Regions from separate parts of the Homo sapiens genome. Here region 2 is linked to region 1. The links come from fine-mapping of genetic effects on gene expression. A gene starts in region 1. The other region holds a variant in brackets. All regions are shown on one strand. Distances are from middle to middle.

Region 1 (4,395 bases):
TAAACTCACTCATCTGATCTTGTGGCCCCCCCACTCAGGAACTGACTCACTGCAAGGAGACAGCTTCGACTCCCTATGATTTCATCCCTGACCAACAGCGCTCCTGGCTCACTGGCTTCCCCCAACCCACCAAGTTATCCTTAAAATCTCTGTTCCCCAAATGCTCAGGGAGATGACTTGAGTAATCATAAAACTCCAGTCTCCCGCACAGCTGACTCTGCGTGAATTACTCTTTAACTATTGCAATTCCCCTGTCTTGATGAATCAGCTCTGTCTAGGCAGTGGGCAAGGTAAACTCCTCAGGTGGTTCCACTGATATAGGTGATTTAAGTGTTAAATAAAAATCTGTTACATTAAAATGCTGAATAAAGAGTGTTTAAAGCACTCCACAAAGATTATTTTTTAAATGCCTCTGTGTAAGAGGAATTCTAATATTGTGCCAGGATATGTCAAGCTATAAGATAAAAATTGAGTGCATTTCCTAGAATGCTTATTCTACTCTAAGATTTTGTGAGAGGTATAATAATTCATTTAACTGGTAATAAACATTAAAGAAGAGTCAAACACTGATTTTTGTTTTAAGGGAGAAGAGAGATTTTTTTTTTTCAAGACACTTGCTTGAGCTAGATCCCCAGGAGTATTTTTAACACTCCTCTGTAATTAGGGAAACATCAGTATGTCTGTATTGATACATATACACACATATATAATATGTATATATGTAAGACTATGAACAGTCCTAAATTTATACTTTGGGCTGATAACTGTGGTTTTCAGGAAAAAAAAAAATTTTAAACGGGTGCAAAGTCTCCCCAACTGGTCTAAGTGAGAAATCATTTGGCATTACCTCTCCCTTATCCCCTACCTGCTAATTACAATTTTTCAAATATAGTTATCATTAAGTGCAAACTACCATAATCTTGGCTTATCTTCATGGCAAACTTCAATTAGAAATTTAGAAAATGGGGAGAAAGAGTAAACAAGGTTAAGAGAGTGGGTTCTCAGATAGAATTGGGTACAAATTTGGGCTCCAACACTTAGGTATATGTGGCCTTGTGTAACCACCTAGGTTACACAACAGGTGTAGGTTAACCATCAGCTGCCTTATCTCATTAGGTCCTTATGAGGATTTAGTGAGCTATGCACCTGAAGTCCTCAGCTGTAGCCAGACAGCAAGTGTTCAAAGATGTTAGTCATTGTTTTTGTTTATTGTTTTATCATTGTGCAGGGTCACATAGCTAAGGGGAATTTCAAATCCAAGTCCATCCTACTTCAAACTCCTTTGTGCTCCTAAGCTGTACAGTATAGTCACCTTGGAGAGTAGGTGATTGGCCCCAAACTACTTCAGGGACTGCAGGTCGTGGCCAGCCAGTCCTGTATCAGACCTCGTCCTTGCCAGATGCCTAGTGCCCCAGATTCCCTCAAATCTCAGGCCAGATCACCTCCCACCTGGTAAGATTCCTCCACCTTCACCCGAGCAAAACTACACTTGGTTTGGGTTCCCGGGTACCTTCAGTCTGCAGGGACAGGGGCTGCAGAGTGTACTCCCCAAGTCTGCCTCTGCTGTCGGCCTCCCAGCTGAGTAGGCAAAACATTCCTTTACAGAGCAATGTGTTCATGGATAAACTTGTCTCTAGTGCAGCTCTCTGTCAGAGCACAGAACATGAGGCCAAAGCACTGCCCTTCCTAGGGAGTCCCGGTTCTCGACTTCCCCAGAATGGAAGTTTGATTTTTCCGTTGGCCCATTTCTCAGATGGAAAAACAGATTCAGTAAGGTGCCAACGCTTTGCTGAGGACTACCCTGGAGGCTACCGTTTTGTGAAGGGGTAGACATTGAGACTGGAGTCAGATACGCATTCTGGCTTATCTCCTGACTTACTGAGTGAACTTGAGCAGGTCCCTTTCGCCCATGGGCGTCGGTTTCTTCATCTGCACCAAGGAGACGGAAAACTGGATTACGTGTCGCTAAGGCCCCGGGTTCTCAGAGGAAAGCTCACCCCTGCAGGGCCGCCTTGCCCCGCGCGCTTGGGGCCAGCTGCACGACAAGCCCCAGCATGCTGGGGAGGCGGGGCTCAGTGACGGACAGGGAGCTCTGCGAATTGGCGCCCGGCAAGGGGTGCTCAACGGCGCGTGCGCAGAGGGAGGCAGGCGGGTGGGCTGCCGGCGGTGGACTCGTCGGAGCCGCGGGCGGTCAGGTAGGGGGCGGGAAGGAGGGTTGGGGACTGGGGACCGCGGCCGGAGTCGTGGGCCGTGGCTCAGCGGCCAGGCGGGGGAACGTGCCGGCGTGCAGCGGCCGCGCCCGAATGGCAGGGTGTGGGGACCGGATCTGGGGGGGGCAGGACTAGGGTGGGGGTGGGGCTGCGAGGGGCAGGCTCGGGAGGGATTCGTGGGGCTGAGGAGATCCGAGGAGATGCAGCTGGGGGAGGGGAGCGAGGGGCTCTGAAGAGATTTGCGGTTGCAGCATCTCGGGAGGTATGAGGTAATGTCGGGGCCCTGAGGAGGAACGGGGTGTAGCATGTGGGAGATGGGAGGGAATCAGGGCCCTGGAGGGACCTGGGTGCAGAATTTCAGAAATATGAAGGAACTGGGGGGCCCCGATGAGATTTGAGGAAATCTGGGGGCGCTAGGCATCTGGCAAGGACAGGGTCTGAGATGATAGGAGCAAGGTCTAGGGCGATCCTAAGTGCTATTGAGAAAGGGTTTTCGGAGTGGGCTGAGGGTGAGATTGAGGGGGTGGGGTGAGTTCTTGAGGGACTCTATCTTGTTAGCAGAAAGAAGGGAGCTGGCTGAGGTGTGAAGGCAGCACATGACATTCAGTGCATAAGAGGAAGGAGCAGGGTATGAGGGCAGCACAGTGCCCGATGGAATGCAGGAGATGGGGGCTCAGATTGAGGGAGAGCAGAAATCTGGGGTGAGGAATTGGGGCGTTGAACTGAGGTGCGGGGCTGAGTGTGGCAGAGATTTGGAAATAGGGATTAAACGATCTGAGTCCGAGGGATTTGGGGCATATGAGTGAGGAATTGACGAGGGTTGCAATATACAGCCCCAAAGATTGGAATTTGGAATTGTAAGAGGGTTGGGGACAGGGTTTGGAGAGGATTGAATCGTGGGGTGGAGATGTCCTAACTGGGCTATAAAATCAAAGGACCCTGAGTAGATTTGTGGATTGGTGTCTTGGGCTGCTAAAGAGATTTTCCTTAAATCGCTGCATGGGAGACAGAGGGAGTTCAGGGGACCCAAGGACCTAAAAGTAATGTATGAAACTGGATGAGTATATGAAGATGAGCAGAGTTCAGGTGCTGAGGAACAAAGTGATAAATCTTCAGTTCAGATAATCCTGAAGGAGTGTGGTAATCCCTGTGAAGGGCAGAATCTTCTTCATTTATTAAACAAAGATCCGTTATCATGAGGCAGGTATGGTATTGCCACTAACTCCATTCTGACCACCGGTCCCCCGGCCCACTGAAAGTGGTAGGCTTTGGGGAAGAAGAAGTGGAACTATTCAAGGTCATCTGCCTAAGCCCTTTTTCCCTGTACCCCCAAGCTACGATAGCAGATAGAAAGTGAGACCTCCAGGGGAATGAGTGGAATAATTTATCCTATATAAGATCCATTACAGCTTGAAGGGGCAGTGGCTCTGTGAGTGAGGTGTTTGGGCTCGGAGACAGACAAAACAACAACAACAACCACCAGAAAAAAAAAAGGGAACCCTTAGGTATTGAGCATTTAGTCCTGTGCTAGACTGTAAAGCAGTGGTTCTTAACCAAGTCTGGCTTTGTCTCCTAGGAGACATTAGGCAATGTCTGGAGATGTTTTTTGGTTGTCACAGGGTGGGGGATACTACTGGCCTCAAGTGGGTAGATTAAACATTAAACATAATGTTTTATGTTAAACATTTGACAATGTGTGGGATACGCCCTTCCCCCCCGCAGTAAGGAATTATCCTGCCTAAAATGTCAGTAATGCCAAAGTTGAGGCACTCTGACCTAGAGTCAGATACCCTGGGTTCAAGTCCTAGCTCTATCTCTTCCTGACTTTAAGTCCTAGCTCTATCTCTTCCTGACTTTGTGGCCTTGAATGAGTTACTTAACCACCCAGTGCCTTGGCTCTTCATCTGTAAAATGGGGTTATGATAACAAGACCAATGTCACAGAATTGTTGTGAGGATTTAGTGAAGTAAACTAGCATGCCTAGGATCTGGCACATAGTAAGTTCTCAAAATCTAGTAATTTTTAGTCTTGTATCTACTTCTTTACTCAGTTTTCATGACAGTCCTTCTAAGTAGGCTCTACTGTATTCAGTTTTACACATGAGGAAACTAAGGCTTAGGAAGTGACTTGCCTAAGTTTCCATAGCTAGGAATGACACAGTTAAGCTCATACCCAGATCTCTGTA
Region 2 (4,395 bases), 33 kb after region 1:
TTGAAAGGTTTTCTGAGAAAGTGACATTTGAGTTGGGTGATATGAAGTGATCTCAGCAAAAATGGGAAAAAAAAATCAGCAGAAGGCCAAGTGACAAAAGGATTGCAGCTTGTTCTAGGACTTGAAGGAAGGTCAGTATGACAAAACGGCAGAAAGCACGGAGACACACAGGGCTGAAGAGGTTGGCTGAGGACAGATCAGAACTGTTAGAGCCCTGAGGCCATGGGAAGGAATTTGCAAATTATCCTCACGGCAGTGACAAGGCACCTAGAAGTTTTAATCCAAGGAATAACATGATGGGATCTCTATTTTAGAAACATCCTATAATGGTTAATTTCATGCGTTAACTTGGCTGGGTTATCAAACTATTTGGTCAAATAGTATTCTGGTTATGTATGTGAGGATGATTTTGGAGAGATTAACATTTGAATTGGTAGACTGACTAAGCAGATTGTCCTCCTTAATGTGAGTGGACTTAAACCAGTAAGTTGAAGGCCCCAATAGAACCAAAAGGTTGACCCTCCCACCTGAATGTCTTGAGCTAGGACATTGGTTTTTTCCTGCCTCTGGACTCCAATGGAAACATCTTCTTTTGTTGGATCTCAAGCCTGCCAGCCTTCGGACTGGAACTATAGCATTGGCTCTCCCACTTCTCAGGGCTTTGGATTCACACTGGAATTACACCATCTGCTCTCCTAGGTCTCCAGCTTGCTGACTGCAGATGTTGGAACTTCTCAGCCTCAATAATTATGTTAGACAATTTATTATAATAAATCTATATCATCTATATCTATATTTACATATCTATACCTGTATCTGTACATATATATATATATATCTGCCTATAAGTCTCTCGCTACATATCCATCCTGTTGGTTCTGTTTCTCTGGTTTTGTTATCCTGGCTAATACACATCCTCAGGGCTGCCGTGTGGTTAGGATTCAGGGAGGCAGGGTAGATGCAGGCTGACCAGGCAAGAGAACAAAGCTGGAATCCAGACAAGCTATGATGGTGACTTGGAATAGGGTGGCAACAGTGAGGAAGAAAAAAGTGGGCAAATTTAAGAGTTATTTGAGAATTAAAATTGACAGAACTTGAAATGGTTTGGAAATGGGTGGCTGAAATCAGCAGAAGACCTTCTCAGAAACTAAGGTACAAAGGGAGAGGGAAGGGATAGTTAGCCAACTCCCACCACCACAGACAAATGCAGCCAGGCTGAGATTTTTCACCTTGGATAAAATTAAGGAGTTAAGATTCAGAGGTGACTGTCCTGGGATCAAGCAATTTGAAGTCAGTGCTCTCAGATCTTGAGAGAGGGTGTTGAGAAGGATTCCTAGGTTTCTGGTTCTGCTTCTAAACAGATAATGGTGCTTCTCACTAGAACACTAGAAAAGTATTAGGTTGTGTGGAGTGGAGTTTGGGCAGGCAAGAGAACTAGAATGATAGCAAATATCAGAGGAAAGCTTGATGTTGGAGGTATAAAGTAGAACTCATCAGTGTGGGGATTACAACAGAGATCATGACCATAGAAACAAGTCTAGAAAGAGGGGTCCATAAGACAGGCTCCTGTGAAACTTCACTTACTAATGTTGCAGAAGAGGATGAACCTGCAGAGGAGACAGAGATGCAACAGTCCAGAGGGGAAGTAGAAAATCATGAAGATCTAGTATCACCGAAACAAACACAGAAAGTGCCTCACACAGGAAGCAGACAACTTTGTCAAAGCCTACTGAAAGGTCAAGCAAGATGGAACCCGAAAACTGTCCGCAGGATATTGAATCACTGAGGAAGTAAACCAAGACCTTGCAGGTCTCAGACCCTAAGAACAACTCCGTTCATATCTTGTTGCCATCTTAAAAGCAAGTTCCCTCGGGAAACTGAAGGCTCTGGAGAATTATCCAGCTCTCATCAGCCCCTTGGCCACATCTGTCCTCAAAGAAAAGGCGACAGTTGAATAATCATTCCCTTCTCCTCCTCCACCCACAACCCCTGAGATGCCTTTTAAACAGCCAAAAACTCCTTTAAAAAGTAGTCTGGGAATGTTTCAGCTGACATTCAAAAGCACATTGTAATTCAAATGGAAGTGCAGAAATGCAATCCCTTGGACAGTCTAGGAAAATGATAATAGAGATAAGACACCTTTTAAAAGTGG[C/T]GACATGTATTTATCTGTGGGGACATTTCTATACCATGGACTCTCCCAATCTAAACTCAGGAGCAGTGCAAACTTCACATAGAGAATGTCCTTCCACAGGGGTCACCTAGGCAGTACACTTGGAAAAGACATGTTAATTGCATAGCATTCTTTCACTTCTAGCCTCTCTTTATCTCGCCATTTCTCTTTGTGGATTTTGGTGTGCCTTTGTCTATCTCTCTTTGTTTTTCTGTCTCCTCCTCCCCTCCCCTCTTTTCTCTCTCTCTCTCTCTCTGCCTTTCTTTTCCTCTCTTTCTTGCTCTAGCTCTCTGTCCCTCCCTCTCTCTCACACACACACACAGAATGAACAATTCTTTCACATACACACATCTGTCACCTTCCATAGTCAGTTTCTCTATAAAAAAGAAGCAATTAAAAATTCAAAAAACTTATTATATTTCTAATTCCTGCATCTATCACTATCCTCCCTAAGTAGAGAATGACAGGGGATGATAAAAGTTACAGATTCCTTTTGATATCTCCCCAGTCCAGTTCCACAGCTCTTTCCCTTCACTGGCTCCAAGCCTGTAGCTAAACTCACTGAGGCCCCTCCCAATCCCAGGACAATCTACCTCTGCCCTTGATCCTGGGTCACAACGATGACAAGGGATGAGAGCAAATTAGCAAGCCCCACCCCTGCCCACACACATGTGTGCCTTCACGCACATACATACACACAAACATACACACCTGGGAACACAGTAATCGAAGTGGATGTGGCAGCCTTGGGTGGAGGGCATGGGTTGGATCAAGATAATTAGGCCCTCAACTCAGAGCTGGATGGGTCCATCCATTGCTCTATTTTCTTATTCCATCTATACAATGACTTTGCATTTTGCATATGGAAAAACTGATCTTAAAGAATGAATCACTTTGCTCAAGATCACACATCTGGGAAGAGGTAGAGCTGGGATTTGAATTGAGATCCATCTGATTGTAAAACCTGTGCTTTATCTCCAAATGAGAAAGTCTTTATCCAAGGTAGCCACAGGAAGGGTGACTTTATACAGTGAACCCTCATCATGATATAAAGCTCATGTATCATGATCACAGCTAGGGAGAATGCGTGAATATCAAGTCAAAGGGTGAAATGGAGCCCCAGTGGGAAGAAGGTAGTTTTTTCAAAATACAGGGATATCAAGAGCACAGAAGCATGTAATGAAAGTATTATGCTAGAGGAAGAGACTCAGAAGTTCACACACTGCTTGGGGGAATGGCACGGGAGCAGAGGTGATGGCTAAAGAAACCTGACAGGCTAAACAGCTTCCATGCTAATCATGTCTGGAACCTAGAGCTTCCAGGGATGACTTTGGCTGCTCTAGTTGTTTCCTAAGGCCCAGTTCTTCCTGCATTAGATTCTACCTTATTGACCTGTTCGGTGTTCCAGTCCCCTACGGACTACTGGAAAGCTCAGAATTCCCACCTGGTGATATAAAACTCTGCCTTCCTGCCTGGAGATCTTACCAGTGGTTATTGGCATGCCCAGTGCCCCCTCTGGAATCAACATCAAAAACTAGGTCTGTTATTCTAGCTTTTATTTTTGCCCTATTACAGGGAAGAAAATACAGAGGATCTAGACCACTATACTTCCTTTCTGTGTCTAGAATAGACATTACCAACTGATCATCTCAATGATCCCAATAACTTACACACAGTGTTCTAGACAAGCCATTCCCTAGTTGATCAGAATTGGCACATGAAAGCTAGAGAGCATAATATGATAGTGACTGGGTATTCCAACCAGCCTGGAAATGTTGGCCTCCTCCCTCTTCCCAGCTGTCTACCAGTGGATTTTTAAAAGTCTGTAACAAAAATGATGAAATATTGGGATACTAAGGCATGCTGGTAATGAACAACGTAGGAACAGAGCCTATATCTTCTTTATTTGGTGCCACAACATCTGACGCACACACAAAAAAAAATACAGAGAAAAAGCAGTTGGGAAATGTTCAGACAATCAATGAATAACTATGACTTTATTTTCCCACACAATGTACCTTTAGAAACACTTAGGGGAATGAGAGTAAAGTAAACTCCTCATGGGAAATATTTTAATCAGGCACATTCACCCCATCTCCCTTGGCTTTCCAGTAATTTCCAGTGGTTTCCCCAGATCATAAAAGTGGCCAGGGTCCCATCATTATGAAACCTGGGAAGGCTAGGGCATTTGTTTCTAATATCCAGGGACACCAGAGCTAGGGTGA

The links. PIP is the estimated chance that this variant, and not a neighbour inherited with it, causes the effect. A credible set is the group of variants that fine-mapping cannot tell apart.
Region 2: its variant is the best candidate, but not a certain one, in a credible set for the expression of TRIM32 in whole blood (INTERVAL, PIP 0.52).

What each region holds. Positions count from the first base shown.
Region 1 is chr9:116,685,187-116,689,581 of GRCh38, forward strand. TRIM32 (tripartite motif containing 32) reads left to right here and starts at 2,119. Exons shown (of 2, transcript NM_012210.4): 1 at 2,119-2,195. All of the region lies in intron 16 of ASTN2 (astrotactin 2), which reads right to left. RefSeq lists enhancers at 1,786-2,105, 2,546-2,595 and a silencer at 2,176-2,375.
Region 2 is chr9:116,718,154-116,722,548 of GRCh38, forward strand. All of the region lies in intron 16 of ASTN2 (astrotactin 2), which reads right to left. Among named protein-coding and RNA genes, the nearest start is that of TRIM32, 33 kb to the left of the region's middle. The variant C/T (reference allele first, on the strand shown) is at 2,153.